2 separate regions of the Homo sapiens genome follow, and region 1 is linked to region 2. Evidence: fine-mapped expression QTL. A gene starts in region 2. The other region holds a variant in brackets. All regions are shown on one strand. Distances are from middle to middle. Region 1 overlaps HDAC8 (histone deacetylase 8). Region 2 holds the start of HDAC8 (histone deacetylase 8).

Region 1 (12,400 bases), 240 kb before region 2:
CACGTTTTTCCATTTATCTGTGCTTTGTTTAATTTCTCTCAACAACATTTTATAGTTTCAGTGTACAAGTTTTTTGCCTCCTTGGCTAAGTTTATTCCTAAATATTTTATTCTTTTGGATGTTATTGTAAATATAACTGTTTTCTTTTTCTTTCTTTTTTTTTTTTTTGAGATGGAGTCTCACTCTGTTGCCCAGGCTGGAGTGCAGTGGTGTGATCTTGGCTCACTGCAACCTCTGCCTCCTGGGTTCAAGTGATTCTCCTGCGTCAGCCTCCCGAGTAGCTGGGACTACAGGTGCGTGCCACCACGCCTGGCTAATTTTTTGTATTTTTAGTAGAGACGGGGTTTCACCTTGTTAGCCAGGATGGTCTCGATCTCCTGACCTCGTGATCTGCCCACCTCAGCCTCCCAAAGTGCTGGGATTATAGGCGTGAGCCACCGCGCCTGGCCAGAACCGTTTTTTAAATTTCCTTTTCGGATTATTCATTGTTGATGTATAGAAACACAATGGATTTTTTTTGGTTAACCTTGTACCCTGCTACTTTGCTGAATTCATTTATTAGCTCTAGTGGTTGTTGTTGTGCAGTGTTTTTATTTGTAAGGAAAATTGAGAAAATTCTGAATGTTGAGCAATAGGGGACAGGTTAAACAAATTTTGAAGCATCCATATAATAGGATCATTTCAAGCATCAGGTGTGCCTTCCTTTTTGGTATGTCTGGCATATGTTATAATGGAAGATGAATAAAGTAGCTGTTTCTAGATTGATATGGAAAGCTGTCCACGGCGTATAATTAAGTGAAAGAAAAATCAGGTTGCAGAACAGTTTCATTTCATTTACATAAAAGTCAAATGGTCATATATGCATAATGCCAGCTCCATTGAGACAGAGATCGTTGTCTGTTTGTACACAGATGTAACCCTAGTGCCTGGCACGCTGCATGGCACATAGTAGGTGCTCAATAATATTTATGGAGCAAATGAAAAAAAGTCTGGAAAGAAAAACACTAAATTGCCAATAGTGGTTATCACTGAAGTATAGGGATATGAGGGAACCATTATCTGTATTATCTGAAAGTTTTTACCTGAAGCATATATTGAGGGGAAATATTTCATTACACACACACACACACACACACACACACACACACAAACACACACACACATTCTCTTACCAAGTAAGTGGTTAGGAGAAAGGCATAGTGGGCCAAAGGAGGAAGGTGCCAGGACTCCATCTGAGGTAAACAGAGGCTTCTCACAGGCAGTCACTTTGGAGCTGGGCCTTACCAGGCTCCTTATTATTTATTTATTTTTTTGTCCACACAGTAGCCAGAGCGAGCTTTTCAGAATGCAAATCTGATCAGACCACTCCTTGGCTTAAAACTCTGATGGCGTCCTTACCTGCAGGCTCAAGCCCAGCCCCCCAACCTGGCACAGGAAGCCCTTTGTGATCTGGTCCCTGCTATCTTTACTTGCAGCAACTCACCAATATAGATTTTAATGTTTTATTATGAAAATTGAAAAACCACAAAACCAGAGAGACTATATAATCAACTCCCATATTTTCATTCAATCCACTTTAACAGTGATCAACATTTTAAAATTTTGTTTTACCCACGTCCCCCTCCCTCCCCACCCTCCATATACATTTTCCTCCTCTGGAGCATCCAGATACAGTTCATCTATAAATACTTCTCTTTATCTCTCTATAAGATGAGGATATAAAATATATGTGTATATAACCACCATGCTGTTATTGTACTTAACAAAATTATCAATAATTTCTTAACATAACCTGTCCAATGTTCCCTCATTGTTTTAATAACATCTTTTTACAGTTGGTTTGCTTGGATACCGTCAAATATCCTGTGTTCCAGCAACACCAAGCTGCTTATTGCTTCCCTAAATTTCCTGTGCCTTCTTGCCTTCATGTATTCCAGTCCCTTTGCCTGGAATGCCTCCTCCCATGCCTGGCCCAAGATTCAGCTTGAGTGTCACCGCCTGCTTGTAGCCTTCATGGTTGCCCCAGTCTAGATTGCTTGTCTCCTCCTCTGTGTTAATAATACCTAGAATAAGGCATTGCTCTGTCTTATTACATAGTTCTACCATTCTCTAAGTATGTATTGAGAGAGAGAGAGAGAGGAGACTGGGCGCGGTGGCTCACACCTGTAATCCCAGCACTTTGGGAGGCTGAGGCGGGCGGATCACGAGGTCAGGAGATCGAGACCATCCTGGCTAACATGGTGAAACCCCGTCTCTACTAAAAATACAAAAAATTAGCCGAGCGTGGTGGCGGGCGCCTGTAGTCCCAGCTACTCGGGAGGCTGAGGCAGGAGAATGGCGTGAACCTGGGGGAGGCGGAGCTTGCAGTGAGCTGAGACTGTGCCACTGCACTCCAGCCTGGGCGACAGAGTGAGACTCCATCTCAAAAAAAAAAAAAAAAAAAAAAAAAAAAGAAAGAAAAAGAGAGAGAGAGGAGGAGAGAGAAATAGATAATGATAAATGATAGATGGTATCTGGGGATTGCCAGGACAAGATGGCTACTTTAGTTAGGGTAGGGTGGTCACAGTATTATTATTATAACTTATTTATTTATTTAATTTATTTTTTTTTGAGATGGAGTCTTGCTCCCGTCGAGCAGGCTGGAGTGCAGTGGCGCGGACCTTGGCTCACTGCGACCTCCACCTCCTGGGTTCAAGCGATTCTCCTTCCTCAGCCTCCTGAGTAGCTCGGATTACAGGCATGCGCCATCACACCCAGCTAATTTTTGTATTTTTAGTAGAGACGGGGTTTCACCATGTTGGCCAGGCTGGTCTTGAACTCCTGACCTCAGGTGATCCACCTGCCTCGGCCTCCCAAAGTGCTGGGATTACAGGCATGAGCCACCGCACCCGGCTGTTTTTTTAAATTTTTTGAGACAGAGTCTCACTCTGTCACCCAGGCTGGAGTGCAGTGACACAATCTTGGCTCACTGCAACCTCCATCTCTTGGGTTCAAGCGATTTTCCTGCCTCAGTTTCCTGAGTAGCTGGGATTACAAGCATGCGCCACCAAGTCTGGCTAATTTTTTTGTATTTTTAGTAAAGACGGGGTTTTGCCATGTTGGCCAGGTTGGTCTCGAAGTCCTGACCTCAGGTGAATGGCCAACCTCTGCCTCCCAAAGTGTTGGGATTACAGGCATGAGCCGCCACACCCAGCCATATTATTATTATTATTTGAGACAGGGTCTTGCTCTGTTGCCCAGGCTGGAGTGCAGTGGTGCAATCATGGCTCACTGCTGCCTCGACCTCCAGGGCTCAAGGCATCCTCCTGCCTCAGCCTCCTGAGTAGTTGGTACTACAGGCATGTGCCACCACGCCTAGCTCATTTTTGTATTTTTAGTAGAGATGGGGTTTTGCCATGTTGGCCAGGCTGGTATGGAACTCCTGGGCTCAAGCAATCCTCCCACCTCGGCTTCTCAAAGTGTTGGGATTACTGATGTGAGCCTCCGGGCCCGGCCCTAGGGTATTTAATTGAGTCAGACAACTGAATGAGGAGAAGGAGCCAGTCTAGGGAAGATTGGGGCATTCCAAGCAGGACTAGCGTGTGCATAGATCATGAGGTGAGGGGCCCCTGTCTTAGACAGCTCTATTTATGTCTGTCTTTACCTCTACGTCTGTAGATCTCATCCTTTTTGTAATCACAAAACTCCTTTGAGTGTTGAGACTCTGATAATAGCTATGGCTCTGTGCCCCAGAAAAATGTACATATGTACAGTCACACAAATTTGCATACTATTTCCCTAATTCCTGAAGCCAGGGAACCCCAGGAAGTTTCCTTACCCACAGCGTGTTCACATTTAGGGCAAGAACAGTGTCTACTACTAATATATAACATGCGCTCTACTACATGCTTTTCTGCATTATCTCTTTGGTCCCTCGCAACCACCCCCATGAGGTAGGTACAGGTAAGTGTCGCCATTTGATAGACAATAAGACTAAGGCTCAGAGAGAGGGAGTTACTTGGCCAAGGTCACACAGCTAGTAAGTGAAGGGAGAGGCTTAAACTCAGGCAGTCTGAGGCTGAAGTGTGTTATGTTGCATGCCAAGGCACTACCGGTCAGCTTTGGGCCCAGCACTGAGCAGGAGGTTTGGGGATCTGCCCCTGGCAAATGCAGAGAAGGAGGAGCTGCAGGAGCTTTCTGTATAGGGGCTTAGAGATGTCAAAACACACTTGTTTACGTGGTTGTTTTCTTTCATTCTTCTGCTTTTCTCTTCCTCCTTCTTTTCCTTCTCCTCTTCCTCTTTTTCCTTTTTTTTTTGTTGAATGACAATATTTGATTTTCTTATAAAGAAGTCTTTCTGCCTTAGAGTCTTTTAAATATATAATTGGAAATATACTACTGCTGTCTCTGTGACAGCTAACATTGAATGCAGCAGAGGCAGATCCACCCTCCCCAAAGGAAAACTGGTGGGAATTTTCCATTGACTTAAAAACAAATGTTATGTATTAACTTTTTTGGGACCAGGTAATACATTCACATGGTTCAAAAATCAAAAGGTACAAAAAGGAACTGAGTGCAGGTCGCCCTCACTCTGCCACTTGCCATCTGGTTCCCTTGCCCAGAGGCAACTGAGGTGTCCCAGTTCCTTGTGTATTTTCCCAAAGGTGTTTTATGCACATATATGCATATCCAATATCGATATTCCTTTTTAAGTGGTTATTTTCTTACCCCTTGAGTTGGAGACATAGTCTACACTTCTTTCTTGGTCTCTTTGGCCCTTGTGAGTGCCCTGGAGACAGAGGGGGCTGGTGGGTTTCCTATAAGCACTGGGTTTTCCTCAGAGGTGAGCCTTCCCTGGACCATTTCCAAGGCAGGCCCTCCTGTCCAGAATACACGCTTTTCAAAGTGCTTCCATCTTTGGTAATTCATCAACCACTCACAATAGCCCATGAGGTGCAAGAATTATTCACCCCATTTTATGGGTATGGAAACAGACCCAGAAAGGTCAAGCAACTTGCTGAAAAGCACACAAACGAATGAATGCTACTGTGTGGTGAGGGCCCAGAAGCAGCATGTGGCTTGGTCCAGCTTGGGCTTTGGAAGCAGTAAGAAAGTTGTTTACTTCAAAGTCACAGTTTAAAAATATTCTAGTGGCACTAGTGTGGGACAGTGGAAAAAGTAAGGGAATTTGCAGTTCCAGCCGGGTTTTTCTTCCTGGCTCTGCCACTTAAAAAGGGGCATGTTACTTCATCATTCTTAGCCTCAATTTTCTAATCTATAGAGTGGGGATGATAATACCCACTAGCAGGGTGGATAGTGACGTACAAGTGAAAATGATCTGTAAAATGGGGCATATGCCAATGCTTGCTTTACCATTGTTGTTATAGTTATTGTGGCTGGTCCCTTGCAGACACAAGGGGTGGGTGGTGGCGGGGTCGGCAGCAATTTCCTAAAGGTAAGACAGGCAGGCTTATGGTGGGGACAAATTTGCCCCACCCTCAAGCCAACTGATCTAAAAAGCATCCCCCTCCCCCGCATCCCCCTCCCCGCCATCGCCCCCACTGATCGGTCTTCCAGGCAATTAGAACAGCCCCAGGGCCTGAGCACAAAGTCTTCCTCAGTGGGTGTCTTGAACTGACTTTGATCTGTAACTACCCCCTAACTCCCCGCGGATCAATTGTTTCTTTTTTTTTTTTGGGGTTTATGTATTTATTTTTTTCTATTATTAAAGTAAAATGTGCCCACTACAGAAAATTTGGAAAATACTGAAAAGTAGAAATGTGCTCCCACAGCTCTGAGCTCATGTTGATAACAGAGCTGGAAACATGTTGGGATCTGCTTCTTTTTCTCCTCCCTTGCCTTGTCTGGGAATTCCTAGACAGCCAGGATGGATGGGGCTGTGTGCTTGTCTGCCGTCCCGGTCCCAGTAGTTAGTTGAAGGAGCTTTGTAAATATTTGGTAAATAAAATTACAATATCATGACATTTAGTTGTCTCTTCCTCATCTCTCCCATTATCTCCCATCCCCATTTTTCCATGTTGCCAACTCCCCAGAGGTTGCAGTAACACCACACATTACAACTTCCTCCCCTTTTCATTATGTGCCAATTGTCTACTGGGAAGCATCCTTTCTATCCATGGAAGTGCTCCTCTTGGATCTGACATGCCAACACACCTTTTCCATCCCTAAATCACTCCCTGGACAGGGACAGCTCCTCCCCAGGGTGCCAATAAGCCCCTCTCCATGACTGCAGTGCCAGTATTCCTACCCCACCATGGACAGCCCCAGTGCAACACAGAGCTTGGCCTTCTGTCCCAAGAACTTGGGCTAGGGACACACTAGTTCCCCAGTGAGGTCAGACTCTCAAGCCGGGCCAGAGTAGAGATTGGAAGGAACAGGGTTATTCTTGACACTTCAGCGAGAAGAAAAGTTCAGAACTGTGTGTGCTGTCAGTGGCGCTTTACAATGAAGACAACGGGACAAAGAGGTAGGTTTTCAAAGATTTTATTAAAAAAACCAAAGATATATAACACTAAAACAACACCAGCGGACTTCTCCCCACCTCCCAGTCTGCTGATCAGTACCCTCTCTCCCAGGGCTCCACCTGGATGGTCCTGAGGCCCAAACCCTGCCT[G/C]TCAGCTGCCTCCTGCCCTACAAACTGGTGACTGCTCTCATCCAGCTTCTGATCTGTTTCATTTAAGATGATTAAAATACTCCCCTCCCCAATTCGCTTAAAAATAATTTTCAAAGATTAAAAATTTCATTTGTGTGTGTGTGTTTTTTTAAATAAGAACTTTAAATGTGGGATATCTCCTTCTTCCCCTAGGTCCAGTTGAGGACTCTGGGGTGCCTGCCTCTTCACCCCAGGAAGCCAGCTGCCACTTGATGCCCCTTGGAAATTTTCAGGAAGTAATTTCTTTCAAATTTTCCCTGCAGTCACAAATTCCACAAACTGCTTGCATAAACACGCTGTCTTCATTATAGGCACCACTCCTCAGCTCTGGAAACCTGATCTCTTTCTGTCAACTAGACCACATGCTTCAGATTCCCTGCAAACAGGGGAGAAAACAAAATTCAAAGTCAGGTAATGTATGTGAATTATACCCCAATAGAGCTATTTTTTAAAAAGCACTTATATTTTGGGGCTTATTCTCTGCTGCTCTTGGGAACTCTGTGACCTCGCCATAAGGAACAAGACCAGAATAGCTTGCTGGATGATGAGAAACAAATGGCCCAGAGATCCCTGTCACCCAGGCAACCACCAGCCAATTACTGGACATGTGATCGAGGCCTTTGACAGCCAGCTGACTGCAGATGCTGGGTGTATCCAGCCAGAACCAGAAGAGCCACCCAGCTGAACTCAGCTCAATTGCCAATCTATAGAGTCATGAGCTAAACAAATGGTTGTTTTAAGTCTCTCTCTCTCTCTCGTAACACTTTTCAGAGTTCATTCTTTACTAACTGCATCAAATCTCATGCTCCCCACCCCCAACTTTTCTTCCTTCCCTTAGCAAGGCACAACCCTCCTAGCATTTTCTCTTGTGAGTACCTGTGAAACACGGATTGGGGGCTTTCCTCTGATCTCAGGCCTAAGAGTCTTTGAGGGAAAAGTGATCATTTGAAATCCTACCGGACTGGGCTCTAGGAATGAAAAGTTGCTCACTTTGTCCCTCCGTAGTCTTTGCCTTGCCACACTTCCCCAAGTAGAAACACTGGGCTCCAAACCCTACTGGCCACTTCTCTGAAACAGAAACAATGCTCCCTGAGGGCAGGGCCTGGCTGTCTTACTTTTGGTTGATTTCCAAAGTCTTGCACAGTGCCTCACTCATAGTAGGTGCTCAGTAAATGGCTGAATGAATGGACGAATGAAAGGAAGGAAGGAAAGAAGAAACAAGTCAGAAACAAACTACTTGCCTATCTTTTTTTTTTTTTTTTTTTTTTTGAGATGGAGTTTTGCTCTTGTTGCCCAGGCTGTCGTACAATGGCGCGGTCTCGGCTCACTGCAATCTCCCGGGTTCAAGCAATTCTCCTGCCTCAGCCTCCCGAGTAACTATGACTACAGGTGTGTGCCACCATGCCCAGCTAATTTTTGTATTTTTAGTAGAGATGGGGTTTCACCATGCTGGCCAGGATGGTCTCGATCTCTTGATCTCGTGATCCACCCGACTCGGCCTCCCAAAGTGCTGGGATTACAGGTATGCCCGGCCTTGCCTATCTACTTTTATTTTAAATTTTATTCTGCAGTAAAATTGACATTTGTGCATGTGCAGATCTGATTTTAAACATATGTATAGATTCATGACAGAGAGGAGTTCCATAACCCCTCAAATCTCCTTGTGCTATCCTTTTGCAATCACATCTTCCTTTCTCCCCCACACCTAGCAAGCACTGATCTGTTCTCCATCACTGTAGTGTTGTCTTTTTGAGAATGCCATATAAATGCAATCAAACAGTCTGTAACCTTTTAAGATAGGCTATTTTATTTTTTTACTCAGCATAATGCCTTTGAGGTTCATGCAGATTTGTGCATGTATCAATAGAAGTTCATTCCTTTTTTGTACTGAGCTCTTACTTTTAAAATAATTATAGAATAACAGGAAGCTGCAAAAAAAAAATAGTGCAGAGAGGTTCTACACACCCTTCCCCAGGTTTCCCCACATGTTAACATCTTACATAATTACTGTTCAATATCCAAGTCAGGAAATTGACATTGGTACAATTCACAGATCTTATTAATATGTCACTAGTTTTACAAGCACTCATTTGTGTGTGTATAAGTGTATAATTCTAGGCCATTTAATCGCAAGTGTAGATTCATGTAACCTCAACCACAATCAAGATGCGAAACTATTTTATCACCACAAAGATTTCCCTCCTCTACCTCCTTTACAGTCATTCCCATCCCTCCTCCTTCACCATCCCTAAGTCCCAACAACCATTCATCTGTTATCCTTCTCTAAAATTTGGTCATTTTGAGAATGTTATAGAAATGGAACCATACAGTATATAAACTTTTGAGATAGATAGGCTTTTTTCACTCAGCATACTGCTCTTAAGATCCATCCAAGTTGTGGTGTGTATCAAGTTTGTTGCTTCTTTTTGCTGAGTAGTACTCCACAGTATGGATGTAGCACAATCTGTTTAACTACTTATCTGCTGAAGGACACCTGAGTCATTTCCAGTTTTTGGCTATAGAATCAAGCCACTATGAACATTCACATACAGGTTTTTGTGTGAACATAGTTTTCATTTTTCTGGGACAAATGCTCAACAGAATAATTGCTGGGAGGTATGGTAGTAGCATGTTTAGCTTTATAAGAAATTGCCAAACTGTTTTCCAGACTGGTGGTACCATTTTACTTTCCCTCCAGCAATGTTTGAGTCATCTGGTTTCTCAGCATTCTTGCTGGCATCTGGTGTTGGTTTTTATTTTGGCCATTCTGATAGATGTATAGTGATATCACATTGTGATCTCAATTTGCATTTTCCCAATGGCTAATGATGTTGAACATCTTTTCATGTGCTCATTTGCTGACTGTATATCCTTTTCATGTCTTGTCTTTTGCCTACTTCCTAATTGTTTTTTTTTTTTTCTGTTGAGTTTGGAAAGTTCTTTATATATATTTTTTATTTTTATTTTTTGAGACACAGTCTCACTCTGTCACCCAGGCTGGAGTGCAGTGGTGCGATCTCGGCTCACTGCAAACTCCGCCTCCTGGGTTCAAGCGATTCTCCTACCTCAGCCTCCCTAGTAGCTGGGATTACAGGCATGTGCCACCATGCTCGACTAATTTTTGTATTTTTAGTAGAGAGGGGATCTCACCATGTTGGCCAAGCTGGTCTCAAACTCCTGACCTCAAATAATCCACCCGCCTCAGCCTCCCAAAGTGCTGGGATTACAGGTGTGAGCCACTGCACCCAGCCCTTTATATATTTTAGATACAAATCTGTTGTGGGATATATGATTTGCAAATATCTTATCTCAGTATGTAACTTATCTTTTCATTCCCTTAACAGGGTCTTTTGTAAAGCAAAAGTTGATTTTGATGAGCTCCAATTCCTTATCAATTTTTTTTCTTTTTTTGGATCATGCTTTTGGTATTTCAACCCCCTAACCTCAAAAAAATCTCTGGATAATCTTTGATCCTTAATTTCTTAGTTCACGCCTTCTCCACATCTTATGAGTTGTGAAGCCTAACCTCAAGATGTCTCTCCAATCTATCCCCTTCTTTCTGTTCCACTGTCTCTGCTTTAGTCACATCTCTTGTTACTCAGGTCACTGCGACAACCTCTTATCTGGTCCTCCTGCTTCTAGAGCTATTCCCTGCACAATTGCTAGCTGTGATCACATTCCTTCTCTGCTCAAAAAGACTTCAGCAGGCTGGGCGTGGTGGCTCATGCCTGTAATCCCAGCGCTCTGGGAGGCTGAGGTGGATGCATCACCTGAGGTCAGGAGTTTGAGACCAGCCTGACCAACATGGTGAAACCTCGTCTCTACTAAAAATACAAAAAAATTAGCCAGGTGTGGTGGTGGGCGCCTGTAACCCCAGCTACTGGGGAGGCTGAGGCAGGAGAATCGCTTGAACCTGGGAGGTGGAGGTTGTAGTGAGCCGAGATGGTGCCATTGCACTCCAGCCTGGGTGACAGAGCGAGACACCATTTCAAAAAAAAAAAAAAAAAAAAGACTTTAGCAGTTCCCGACCTACCACCTATGAATGAAGTCCAACTCCTTAGCGTAAATGGGCCCCATCCATGCTTTCCTGTTTCCACACCTTCGCTTGTGTTGTTGCCTCAGCTGAGGACAACCTACAGGGGACACTGGTGTGAAGTGAGAGTCCTTCCATCTGTAAGTATAGCCAGAGCTAGGGGAATGACTGAATGCAAGGATGAACAAAATTCCATGTCAAAGCATTCCAACAAGACATGTTCGCAGGGAGGAAAGGTGGGTGCTGTACTCCTCTGCTGCTCTGCCTCACTCTCCAGTTAAATTTGGAGGCAATTAAGAAAAACAACAGAAATAATTTTCACCAAGAAGTTGATGATGAGCAATGTTGAATTGGGGTAACAATAAAAATGCAAGCTTAAATAATGCCCATTGTTTTCCCCTCACATCTAGCTTTTCCAGCAGTGGGTGGCAGCCTGAGAAAATTCTAAAGGCTAGCACAGGCTGGGGCCTAGGGAGACAAGAAGTTCAGACCACAGCGGGCAGACTCAACTGCCTAGAGAGGCCAAGAATATACTGTTTGTAAAGCAGGCTGGGGGCAAGACACAAGGGGCCCTCTTGATCCTTTTTTCATTTTCTTACTTTGAATCATGACATAAGTGTAAGAAATATTTCCCTTTTTTCTTAACTCTGCCACAGAAGAAAACAAAACCAAGACAGTGTAAATGGAAACTCACACTTGGCCTAGAGTAAGAGATACAAAAGGGACTGGTGGGGCTTGTGGCAAAGAGGAAGGTACCTGCTGGCAAAAGTGGGCAGCTGCTGCTCAGCTCCAGCCACTCACCACTGTGCAGTCCTGTCGGCCCCATGGGACCGAGTCCTTCCATTTTCCAAGAGAAGTCCAAATTTCACATTTTTATGCAGTTTCCACTGTGTTAAATTTGGGCAAATGACTGACATTTTAAAAGAATATCATATGAGGCATTAAGATGAGTGGCCAAACAGAACAATTTTGGAGGCGAGATGTAGCTTATGGACTGCCAGTTTGTGATTTCTGGTTATCTCTGAAACAGTCTTGATTTATACCTAAGGCACCCCATTTCACTCTCAAATATCCTGGTTTGGACAATAAACTATACTGTTACTCTAGCTCTGATGTACAAGAAGGAGTACTGAACTGGGACTCAGGGGGCCTGGGTTCTACTGAACCACTGGTTGACTCATTTGTTTATCAATTTATTCAATAAACATTTATGGCGTGTCTACTCTGTGCCAGGTATTTTGTTAGGTGTTGATGAACAATCTCTTTAGTCTTTCTTTTTTAAATTAATATATTTTACTTTTAGAACAGTTTTAAGTTTATAGAAAAACTGAAGAGAAAGTACAGAGAGCTCTCATATATTTCCTTCCCCTTCCCCTACAGGCAGTTTCCCCTATTATTAACATCTTGCATTAGTGTGATACATTTATTATAGTTAGTGAATGGATACTGATACATTATCATTAACTTAAGTCCACTGTTTACGTTAAGATTCGCTTTTGGTCTTGCACAGTTCTATGAGTTTTGAAAAGTATATAATGTTATGTATCCACCATTAGAGTATCATGCAGGAATAGTTTCACTGCCCTCAAAATCACCTGTGTTCCATGGACTCATCCCTCCCTTCCTTTCACTGAAGCCCGGCAACCATCATCTTTTTACAGTCATATGGTTAGAATCAAACAGTATGTAACCTTTTTGGACTGGCTTCTTTCAAG
Region 2 (12,400 bases):
CAAAGCAAGAAAAAAGCAAGCAGGCAAGCAAGCAAAAGCTAACAAAAGGCAGCTTGTCTCTGTTTTTAAAACCATGTAAGACTCATTACTAAAACATTGGTTTCCTTTGCTGTGTTGCCCAACTAGTAAATTCTAGCAGTAAACTTTTTCAAGGACTTCCTTGGCCACAAAATCTGTCAATTTGATGGAAAAAATTCTGTTATTATCTTAACCTGCATATGCTGAAGTTGTGCTGTGTTTTATTCTGAAAAACAAAGTGTTGTTTTCTCTTGACCTAAGAGCACCTAAGGTCACGGTTGATTGCATGAACAATTGATTCCTGAGTGAGGCATTGGCAGTTACTACCACAGTGGCTTCATTTCTCTCAGACAGAGGATCGATAAATTCAGAGTTTAAAAAATCCTTCTTCTTCAATGTGGATTAAGTACTACAGAAATATCAAACAAAGTCCCAAATGCTGAAGGAGGGCCCAGCAATCCTTCTCAGACAGACTACTGCAGTTTGACATGTTAACATAAAACTCTAGAAGGTGGCCAGGCGCGGTGGCTCACCCCTGTAATCCCAGCACTTTGGGAGGCCAAGGCAGGCAGATCACCTGAGGTCAGGAGTTTAAGACCAGCCTGGCCAACGTGGTGAAACCCTGTCTCTACAAAAATACAAAAATTAGCTGGGCATGATGGCGGGTGCCTGTAATTCCAGCTACTCAGGAGGCTGAGGCAGGAGAATCACTTGAACTGGGAAGGAGGAGGTTGCAGTAAGCTGAGATCGCGCAACTGCACTCTAGCCTGAACGACAGGGCGAGACTCTGTCTCAAAAACAAACAAACAAATAAACAAACAAACACTCCAAAGGACTTCTCCTCTAACTCCAAGAAGCACCTAGGAAGAGCCTTTTCACAAGCCCTTTGTCTTTGAGAGACATCTACCTCTGGGTTGCTACTTTCATTAGAGGAGCATGAGCCCTCTTCTTGATTCTTCAGCCTTTTGTTTTAAACCTATTAGCGTCAATTTTCCACCTTTTTAAAAATCTGTTTGCCACTTCTTTTAAGAACTAGCTCTAAAATTCACTTCTGCCAAGACTTCCATGATTAATTTCTTTCTACTGATAAGTCTCTTCAGCTCATACATATATTCCATTGGTACCATAACTAATGTTGTTCTCTATTCTAATTTTGTTAATGTTTCTAGACTGTAAGTCCCTCGAAGACAGGGGAATTTCTAGAAAGCCGAAAAGGAATTTAGAGACTGTCTAGTTGTATCCTTTGTTCATTTTATTGATGAAGAAACTGAGGCCTAGGGAGGGTAATCAGTCCAAGTCAGTTAGCCAAGTTAGAAAAACTAGGTGTAGAGCCCAGGTGTCCTGACTTTGAGCAGTGTGCTTTCCACTATATTAGGTAATCTTTTTTCTATTTCACTTGGATTTCTTCAGAATGCCTTGTAAAGTGCCACATACACACACGTCTCTCTGTAAATGTCAATACAATAAGCATAAGAGTTTACATAACTGAGAAACTGACTCAAGGAAAGAGTCAGAAAACAGAAAGGTCATTTTCTTACTTCTTTGCATGATGCCACCCTCCAGACCAGTTAATTGCTACTTTGCACATTCCGTCAATCAGGCATTGGGCAGCTGTGATCGTAGCCCCTCCTATAGCTGCTGCATAGTCAAATATCCCTTCAGTGGCTGGGCAGTCATAACCTTAGGGCAAAAATCAGAAGAGCTGGTTAAAAGGTGAACTGGAAAAAGAGGAGGAATAGGTTGAGGTGTGACAACAACCTAACCTACTAAAAAGCCACTGTGCTAATATCAGCTCCAACTGAGACAGAAACAACTCCAATGTTGGGGATATAATATTTTAAAAGGTTAGAGCTAGAAAGGATAAACCCTCCTGATGAACTAGTCACAGGCTACAGATAGAGAAACCAAGCCTGAGAGGTGATGTGTCTTGTCAGTGGTCACACAGAGCCAGGCTTGGGACCCAGCTCTGTTGACCCCCCAGTTCAATGTTCCTCTGCTAAACCATGCTGTTTTTCTAGACTATCCTGCAGGTCACTTACAGTTTTAAAAAATGCAGCTGTTTAATGAGGGGTGAGGTACAAAAACTTAGCCAGAACATAAATCTGTACTCCAGTTAAAATATAAGGTCACAGGACAGCTAAATCAGCATATACACAGCCAGACCAGATCTGAGCACTGCCAGTAGGGCATAAGCAACTGAAAGGTTTTCTTTCATCTAACCCTTCATGTGGTTTTGCTCAACTCATATGGTTTGCTTGTTTAGTGAGTTATATGTGGCTAAACCAAAAGATTAAGATTGACAGTTAACACATGATTTCTTAACGAAAAATATTAAAAAAATCATACAAGTTATAAAAAAAATTAGTCTGTCCATCTCCCATCACTGCCTGGTAATGACTTTACCTAGCCCATATTCTATGGAGTCCGGATGATCATCATCGCCCTCTTGGCTGACCTTCTGGAGATGCTGCAGATAAGCATCAGTGTGGAAGGTGGCCATCTCCTCCATGGAGGCCACTTTAGGCTTAACTATCCTAATAATAACAGAGAGAACAAAGAGAGGTCAGTGAGTCAGACCCAGCGTATGCCAGAAGCTAGAAACAGAAGCCAGCAGTCTGAGAAGAAAATACGTCTCAACTTCTGGTTCCAATAGGCTGGAGTAATAAACATATTCTGTTCTTCCACTGCACTGTGCGGTCTTCACTGCCTCACATCTACAGTAGTGACTCTATTAATAAGGGGCAAGAAGATAGATTTTCCCTTGAGTTTATAGGTAAGTAAACAAAAGTAATTATATTCAAGTTAAACAAATAATCAGGTATCAGACAGACTTTACCCTGTGAGTTACAACTTTCAGGACAAACTAGTAGGCAGGGATATTTTCATTTGAACCAGTTGCGAATTGGGCTATCTAATCCTTTCAGCTATATCTTTATTTTAATAGGCAGCTATGTTATCATGCATTTTGAATTTGGAGTCAGATTTGGAGTCAGAGAATTGGGTTCCTGTCCTAATTCTGTACTTACTAGCTCTATAACCTCAGATAAGTCAACTGTTCTGTAGTTCAGTTTTCTTATTTGTAAAATGGGGAACTTTATGGGACTTATGTGAAGATAAAAGGATAACACATACAAAAATGCTTGGTGGATAACTATCATTCTATTAACAGATAAAAAATGGGCAACCCAAAATGTAATGTTTCTAGACTTGGACCCTCCTATCTGCCTCTGAGAGCGAGGCGAGAAGGGGCAAAATGGTTGGAACCGGACTTCACTCAGAACCTCTCAACCTACTCCTCACGAAAAATGACAAATAGAAGCGAGTGAGGGAATAAAGGGAGCTAACCCAATAAGAGGCCTTACCACATCTAACCTCTAGCTGCCTATTCCCCATTTCCTCTTCTTGACCCCACAGCTGCCACTACTGTTCTCTAGCCCTTGCCACTTAAAGGGTGGTCCATAGACCAGGAGCATCAGCATTCCCTGGGTGCTTGTTAGAAATGCAGAACTTCAGACTTGCCTCAGACCTGAGTCAGAATTTGTATTTTAACATGATGATTTTTAAACAAGATGACACATTTTAAGGTGATTCATATACACATTCAAGTTGAAGGAGCCCTGACCTGGGCCACAGGGAGGCAGCAGTGGTTTTAAATGTCTGCTGAATGGGAACACAGCCATGAGTTTACGATGAATGAATACGACTATACAGGCTACTACTATCACCAAGGTAGCTGGAAGAAATCCTGTGGTTTGGCCTCAAAAGTGAAATACATAGCCAAGACCCAAGAATTCTTGCTTCTTCTTAAAGAAGACAAATCTATACCACCAGAGGTGAAAAATCTACCCATTAAAATAAAAATTTTGTAATATCTCGGACCGTATTTCCCAGTCCTAAAAGCTCCCTCTTCTAGTACCCTTCCATTTATTTTGGTAAATGTTAAAAAACACTTACTGAAAACCTCCCTATTTAACAGTAAGCAAACTGGACAGTTTTGCTTTGCTTTGATATCTTGTTTGTCATAAAATAATTTTTTGAAATGTTAAATAACTTTAATGGAAGGCATATAGTTACTATGTTAACCAAACCATATGGGTTAAAAAATGGCTTAAAATGGGTGTGGTGACACGTGCCTGTAGTCCCAGCTACTCGGGAGGCTGAGGCAGGAGAATCGCTTGAACCTGGGAGGCGGAGGTTGCAATGAGCCGAGATCGCGCCACTGCACTCCAGCCTGCGCGACAAAGCAAGACTCCATCAAAAAAAAAAAAAAAAGGCTTAAAAATTCCCTTTAAAAGGTACAAAATGATTTTGTTAATAATAAGGATAAAATCTGAAAGCCTATTATTACACTACCTTCTGGGAGATAAATGAAGCATAGCACACTAGTTGGTATGAGCACTCACCTATTTGGCCAGAAATTGTCATAAGTAATCCTATATGTGGCAGGGTTATATTTGCTCTTATAACGACATCAAATACAGAAATGGCAATAAACAGCAAGTTCATGTTTTTGGAAGAAACAGTTAGCTCTCTCTTGAGTTCTGGCGCAGTCTTGGCAGTTTTCTTTGGTCTTTTTTGTTTGTTTGTTTTTTGAGACGGAGTCTCACTCTGTCACCCAGGCTGGGGTGCAGTGGCGCAATCTCGGCTCACTGCAAGCTCCGCCTCTCGGGTTCACACCATTCTCCTGCCTCAGCCTCCCGAGTAGCTGGGACTACAGGCGCCTGCCACCACGCCCGGCTAATTTTTTGTATTTTTAGTAGAGACGGGGTTTCACCGTGTTAGCCAGGATGGTCTTGATCTCCTGAGCTCATGATCCGCCTGCCTCAGCCTCCCAAAGTACTAGGATTACAGGCGTGAGCCACCACGCCCGGCCTTCTTTGGTCTTGATCTGTCTCCAGCCTCACCCATTAAAGTTTGGTGCTGGTGGTGGGTTGTCTAAAAGTCTTAGGTTGAACTCACACCCTCAAATCTGGCTTAGAATGAAACGAAATCAAAAGAAAAATGGAACACCTCCTAGCTGAACACCTTTTTGTATGAGACAGGTTTTAATACCCAAATGTACTCAAAATCTCCACAATGCACTGCACCTACCCCTGGGATACTTAACCAAGCAATCGAGCTGTATTTCTAATGAACCTTAACTGCTTCCTGCACTTTCCACTCCCCTGTCCCAAGTTTTCTTTTCTTTTTCTTTCTTTCTTTCTTTTTTTTTTTTTTTTTTTTTTTTTTTTTTGAGACGGAGTTTCACTCTTGTTGCCCAGGCTGCAGTGCAATGGTGCAATCTCGGCTCACTGCAACCTTCACCTCCGGGGTTCAAGCGATTCTCCTGCCTCAGCCTCCCGAGTAGCTGGGATTACAGGCGCCCGCTACCACGTCCGGCTAATTTTTTTGTATTTTTAGTAGAGACGGGGTTTTGCCATGTTGGGCAGGCTGGTCTCAAATTACTGACCTCAGGCGATCCACCCACCTAGGCCTCCCAAAGTGCTGGGATTACAGGCGTGAGCCATGCTCTCGGCCCCCCAAGTTTTCTTAATTCTTCAAGAGCTTTCTTGGGATTACAGGCAGATTACAAACACTGTGAATACTTTCACAGAAAGCTAAAATAATTTTTTCAAAAGACCATTCTTTTCCTTGCCCCACTGTGAAGCAGGATATTAAGGCTACGAACACCTAGCTTCAGGGCTATGTTCAAGAAAGACAACTTACCTCATCTGCTTATGCAGTGCATATGCTTCAATCAAAGAATGCACCATACTGGCCTAAAAACATCAGCGTAAAAAAAAAAAAAGAAAAGCAGAAATAGTCTCTTTAAAGTTTAATTCAGCAAAATCCCCGTCAATCTCACCATCCTGAACAAAGGAACGGATTAATTTTGTTTCAACTGGCTTCCCTTCTGTTAACAGTTACAATACACTTTAGACAATACAGATACAAAGTATCAAAATCACTAAGGTGAAAGCTACCGGGCCTTAGGCAGGTGATGGAACACCTTCCCCCTGCAGCTTGTTTTCCCACGACTTCAGCGGTCCCCTATGAGTGGAAACTGCGTCCTCTCCCCTCCTCCGTACCCCCTCCCCCACTCCTACCTGTCCATTGGACGTCCCGAAGAGACATGCTGCGCTCTCAGAAACGATATGAGAACACTTCCTTCTGATACAGCTTTAGGTATCTGATACAGCTACTCGAAATTTCTGAAGATTTCCCCCAGCCCAGTGTCCTCTCCGCTTCCTAACGCTCTTTCGTCCACCGCCCCCACCCCCACCCCCAAAGCCCATGGTCTTTCATCCCGACTTCCCTTACCCGTTTGGGGATCTTGGCCAGGGAGTCACACATACTGACATACTCGGGACTATAGATATAAACCGGGACCAGCGACTGCCCACTGTCCGCCGGTTCCTCCGGCTCCTCCATCTTCCGCTTAAAACCGTTCCGCAGCCACCTTCCAGATCTGGCTTTTTTCGGACTCGGCCAGGGTTCCAGTTCCTGCTCCTCTGATCGGCCGCAGCGGTGCTCCCTGGTCAACATTCCCTCCTATTCTTGAGATCGCCGGAGACACTATCACCGCTCCCCATCCTATTGAAGGAATGGATGGGACTTCCCAGACCAGACTCCCCTCATTTAGTGACCACAGTTCAAGGAAAAGGGTTTGGCAGATGTAAAAGTCCAAATAGCTGTCAATTAGGATCGATTGTTTTTATGGCACAAATAAGTAGGGTCAAAACTAACCATCCTTGTTGCCCTACGGGGCCATTTGAGATGAAGTCAGACCAGTTTCACAGCATGCTGGGAGATGTAGTTTCCGGAGGTTTGAGCAACGGAAGAGCCGGGGCTAAACACTAAAATAACCGCGATTTTTAGTTTCAGCGCTAAGACCAAAAAAAAAAAAAAAAAAAAGTAGCCTCAACTCTTTATGAATTGTTTCAATCTGCAAACACATCCATTTCATCCATTTAACCATATAAACACAGATAGAACGTGGCCACCTAGAGCCCCCACCATCCAGCTACATCAGCTGCCTATCCTAAGGATAGGCTTTTTTTTTTTTTTTTTTTTTTTGGTGGGGGCGCTATTTAATGGCACAAATGGTTTGAAAAGTTTACACAGTAAATTCTGTGATGCAATTTTATAGTTCATTTCTTTTCATCATTAACTATCCATGTCCACATGAGAGTTAACAATCTCAATAATTTACTCTGGCAAATCTGATAGTACTTTCCCAAGAGACTGGCTGGTGCAGTGGAAATTGCTTGGTAGATTCCGATCAAGCAATGATGTCAAATGTAACTCCTTGAACATTCATGTGGTAGGAAGGTTGCAAGCAGTGGTGTTTGGAAACTGCAGCTCTTCTCCTCCTACCTCCTCTTGTTTCTGCAGCTAAACATAGATTAGGGAAATATTTTAGGTTTGGTGTGAGGGTCCAGTTTAAGACTATCTGAGGCGGTTTTAGAATTACCATCAGCATTTGGAGGTTCCTGGAGGCCCCTATGATCTGATACAAGCTGGCCAGTGCTCAGGATCTTAATTCTCATGGCAACCTAAACTGACTGACTAACACCACTGGGACAACCTAATATCCTTACTATATTTAAAGTCTGGCTTGCTTTTTAGACTTTAAACATTTATTGAAGATTGTGACATGCACATTGGCCATATTATCTCATTTCATCCTTGCAACAGTCCTATAAAGGAGGTTGCAATACACCCATTTTACAGATGCAGTTTAGAGAAACAACATTCAAAATCACATACTTAACAAGCAGATAAGTAGGAATTCAAAATTAGGTCAGCCTGACACTGAAGCCTTTGAACATTCCCTTTATTATATAAACTTGATTCGTCCAGGATGACTTTGTGTTATGATATAACTTTGTTCACCCTCCATTTTGTATCCCTTCAATACTTATTCTGAAAATCTTGGGGGTGTTTTGGTGATGTGCTCTGTAACTAGAATGTAAGATCTTATGTTTCTTTAATTTATGTCTTCCCATAGTAACTAGTTAAAAGCTCTGCAGTCATTCATTCATCAAACATTTATCTGATATTAAGTGTACAGTACAGCTGAGGATTCAAAGGTAAATTATGATGTGATCTCTGCTCTCAAGGAATTTGCATTCTTTTTTTTTTTTTTTTTTTTTTTGAGACAGAGGAGTCTTGCTCTGTCGCCCAGGCTGGAGTGCCGTGGCGCGATCTCCTCTCGCTGCAAGCTCCGCCTCCCGGGTTCATGCCATTCTCCTGCCTCAGCCTGTCCAAGTAGCTGGGACTACAGGCGCCCGCCACCACGCCCAGCTAATTTTTTTATTTTTAGTAGAGACGGGGTTTCACCGTGGTCTCTATCTCCTGACCTCGTGATCCGCCCGCCTCGGCCTCCCAAAGTGCTGGGATTACAAGTGTGAGCCACCGCGCCCAGCCAGAATTTGCATTCTTATACAGAAGATGGGGCAAGTACACAAGAAACCAAAGGCAATGCAGAGTCAATGAATGTAGGATGCTTAGCCTACTTAATAAATAAGCATTAAGTACTAAATAACTGGCATTTAATAAATGGTAACTAGAATTCATCTTTGATGGCATTTGAGAGGGTCTTAGGAGGTGGGCAAGATTTTGCTTGGTGAAGATGGGAGCCAGGAGAGGGCATGCTGACTAGAATGAACAGCATAAACAGTAACACAAAAGGGAAAATTTCTAGTCGAGTTTAGCTAAAAGGGCCAGATCATGAAGAACATTGAATACCAGGCTAAAGAGAATAGACTACATTCTGTGGGAAATGGGAAAACATATTTAGACAGAAATAGTAAGGAAAAAAGATTTCTATAGCAGCAGTGTGTAGGAAAGATTAGTCATTAAAAGGCTAGGGGCAGTTAGAGTGCCACAATGGTCCAAATAAGAAGTGATAATGATTTTAAACTAGGGTGGGGGCAATGGGAACAAAGGAGAAATAATGTACAGGGTAGGTTCAACAGGACTTTTTTATTACTTGGATATTGGTGAGAGGGAGGAAGATGGAAAAGGGTTGCTGAAAACTCTTAAATGTAAACTCTGGGTAAAGAAAAGACTAGAGGTAGCAATATAAGAAAGAGGGCAATCGGGAGGAAGAACTCATACAGTAGGGCAGAATAGACATAGATTCTGATTTTAAAAGTGTTGAAAAGTGTTTCAGAAATTAGTGGGTTAAACAATTGCAGTGATACACACACACACACTTTTCCATATAAAGAGGAGAAAACTGAAGTCATAAGAGTGGCTGAGCTAGGCAAGGGATGTGGCTTTCTCCACTGGGATGCCTAACAGTCATATCCAACAACATTTTCAAAACCAAGCTCCCAATTTCCCCACCCAAGTTCTTTCCACTCCTTTTCTATCTTTCATAGCTCAGTAAAGATATCAACATCTATCCAGTTGCCTAAGTCAGAAACCTGGGAGTTATTTGTGTTTCTTCCTTTCCTTCACCTGCAGATCCAGTCCATCAGAAATTTCCATTGGTTCTATGTCCAAGACATGCCTTAAATACATTCACTTCTCTCACTCTGTACTGCCACCACTCTAGTCTGGATACTATTATCTCTCACTTAGACTTTCTGCAGTATCAACCTGGGCGTTGCTTCCATTCTTGCTGCCTTACAACCCATTATCTTTGCAGCCACCAGAGTGAACCTCCAAAAAAAAGTAAATCAGATCATGTCACAAAACCTGCCCCAGACTCTGGTGAAGACCTCTGAGCTAGGAAGAAGAGTGTCATTTTTGGAAATGCCTGTGTGTAAGAGTTTAGAGGAGAAAAAGATGTCAGAAAGAAGACAAGGAATGGTCAAAGACCCCTTTTTGTCATTAGAAATTCACTGGTGCCCTATGGAACAAAACAAAACAGGAGGTGGGGAGGAAGCCAGATTGTGGGGGTTTAAGAAGTGAAGCCAACACAGTTAAGTGTAGCTTCCTCTTTGAAAAAATGTGATTGTGAAAGGAAGGAGTTAGTCTAACAGCTTGAGGGGACGTCGGAGCCCAGAAATTTTTTTAAGATAAGAGAAAACTGCACATGTTTATAGACAGGAGAAGCTACAGGAGTTGACTGAAAGGTGAGATCATGATGACGGGCAACATAAGGAGAAATGAGACTTGTTCTGGGCCTTCAGGGATAGGCAGCGGAAAGAGGGCAGGAGATAGACTGGCCAACTGATACCCTAAATTCTGGACTCTTCTTGGATGACATGAAAAGGTATTGTTTCATGTGTCCTTTCTGATCTAGTAACAAATAGCTGAATGGCTCTAAACTGGAAACACTATCCAAGTACCCCATGCAATGTGGCAAGATGATTCAGCTATGGAGAAAGATAAATTGTTGCACAATGCTCTGGAATTGGCAACCTATTCCTGCAGCTAATCTCAAAGGGCGGCTAGACGCTTGCTCATGGTTAAGAAAGAGCACACATCATGCCACAGGTCCCTCACCTCAATTTTCCACATTCGTAACACCCATATGGTTCTTAAACTGGGAAGAAAACCCTTCTCAATGCACTTTATTTGCAGTTGGAGGACTTGAGGTCACAGGAAGTAGGTTGAATCTTGGCTTCAAAGCTTGCTAGGGTGGTGACCCAGGGCAAGTTACTTGACTCACTTTCCTCAATCATTATTGCTAAAAGTAACATTCGAACCGGTAAGTTCAGGTTGGGCTGTGCCATATTTTTTTGGTGCTTTCCCCTGCTTTTCCCCAGAAGGGGAGGCAAACACATTACAAGGGCACCACCCTTCAGTGAATGAGCAGAGTCTTCTCTGCTCATTTCACTATCTGTCCAGTGACACTTCAACTGTCTTCAACTGACCCTTGTCACACCACCCCCTTAATGTCATTTTCCTTGGAGAGTGTCATTGTTGAGAATGTGATCGCTAGCGTCAGACTGCATGGGTTCAACTTCCAGCTCTATCACTTATTAGATGATTGATTTGGGGCAATTTACTTAAACCCTCAGTGCCTCAGGTAGCTTACTTGTAAGATGGCAGTATCTATCTTACATGGCAATTGTGAAGATAAAATGGCTCACGCTAAGTGCCTATATAACAATGGCATTTGGTATGTGCTCAAATATTGGTTATTTAAGAGCCATTATGCCAAATATTTCTATATTTGGTGGGGAAGGGAGTTTCCCCCTACTGTCATCCTTACCCCCATACCACTACTGCACAAGTACTACTAGTGGTTTGAGAATAAGTTCTTGGTTTTTTGGCTTAGCCTTAAAAGAAATCACACATCTGCTAAATATAGGGTGACCATATCTTTCAAACTGAGACATTTTTTGAGAGTGACACAGTGCTATTGATAATTATGCCAGTAAAACAGGCATAAATGGGGGCTGCCCTGGACAAACCAACACCTGAGGTTACTCAAGTTAAAAAGGAAATGAATGTCTACCAAATATAAGAATAAAAATTGATGGCTGTATTTTTTTAAAATTAAATAAATAAAAAGGAAATGAAGACTACATGTGGAAAATAATCTCCACTGCATTAGTGCAGACACTAGGTACTTGGTAAGTAGAAAAAGGAATGGCAGAGGTTTTGCCAGCTGTGGTGAAGAACAACTTTTGCCCCACCAGTTGTGTAAGATTCCCAGAATGTAGTAAAATTTCATTAACCAGGATGGAACTGTAGAGACAATGTTCATCCTTGCTGGATAAATCCTGTTATAGAAAAGGCTAATGAATAGTATAAACAAACAAGATTCTGCCAAATATTTTTAATATTTAGAAAAACAAGTTGTTTTAAAATACCCTTCATTAGGGAAGAAGCACCATTTGTACACAATTGAAAGGCTGAGTAAAAATGTTTTACTCATTCATCAGAAAATGTTCCCTACAGGCCAGGCGCGGTGGCTCACGAGTGTAATCCCAGCACTTTGGGAGGCTGAGGCAGGCGGATCACCTGAGATCAGGAGTTTGAGACCAGACTGGCCAACATGGTGAAACCCCGTCTCTACTAGAAATACAAAAAAAATTAGCTGGGTGTGGTGGCGCATGCCTGTAATCCCAGCTACTCGGGAGGCTGAGACAGGAGAATCGCTTGAATCCGGGAGGCAGCGGTTGCAGTGAGCCGAGATCACCCCACTGCACTCCAGCCTGGGCGATAGAGCAAGACTCCGTCTTAAAAAAAAAAAAAAAGAAAAGAAAAGAAAAGAAAAGAAAAGAAAAGAAAAGAAAAGAAAAGAAAAGAAAAGAAAAGAAAATGTTCCCTACAGATGTCAATAAGCCCGCTTGAATTTAGTAAGCCTTGTTTGAGTGGGTATGTATTTGAATGATTAAACTGCATTTCTTTACATATATTATCTAACATATTATGAAATGTATAATATATTATATATGTATTAATATATTAATATTATTCTACTTCAACCCAATGA

The links. PIP is the estimated chance that this variant, and not a neighbour inherited with it, causes the effect.
Region 1: its variant is fine-mapped to the expression of HDAC8 in whole blood (TOPMed, PIP above 0.99). The same link has a PIP of 0.9 or more in cerebellum and thyroid.

Annotation. Positions count from the first base shown.
Region 1 is chrX:72,323,049-72,335,448 of GRCh38, forward strand. HDAC8 (histone deacetylase 8) reads right to left here. Exons shown (of 11, transcript NM_018486.3): 11 at 6,468-7,028. The coding sequence ends at 7,006. Among named protein-coding and RNA genes, the nearest start is that of CITED1, 23 kb to the left of the region's middle. The variant G/C (reference allele first, on the strand shown) is at 6,614.
Region 2 is chrX:72,566,333-72,578,732 of GRCh38, forward strand. It overlaps HDAC8 (histone deacetylase 8), which reads right to left and starts at 6,511. Exons shown (of 11, transcript NM_018486.3): 1 at 6,319-6,511; 2 at 5,725-5,777; 3 at 2,422-2,552; 4 at 1,557-1,698. The coding sequence starts at 6,429. RefSeq lists an enhancer at 6,474-6,603.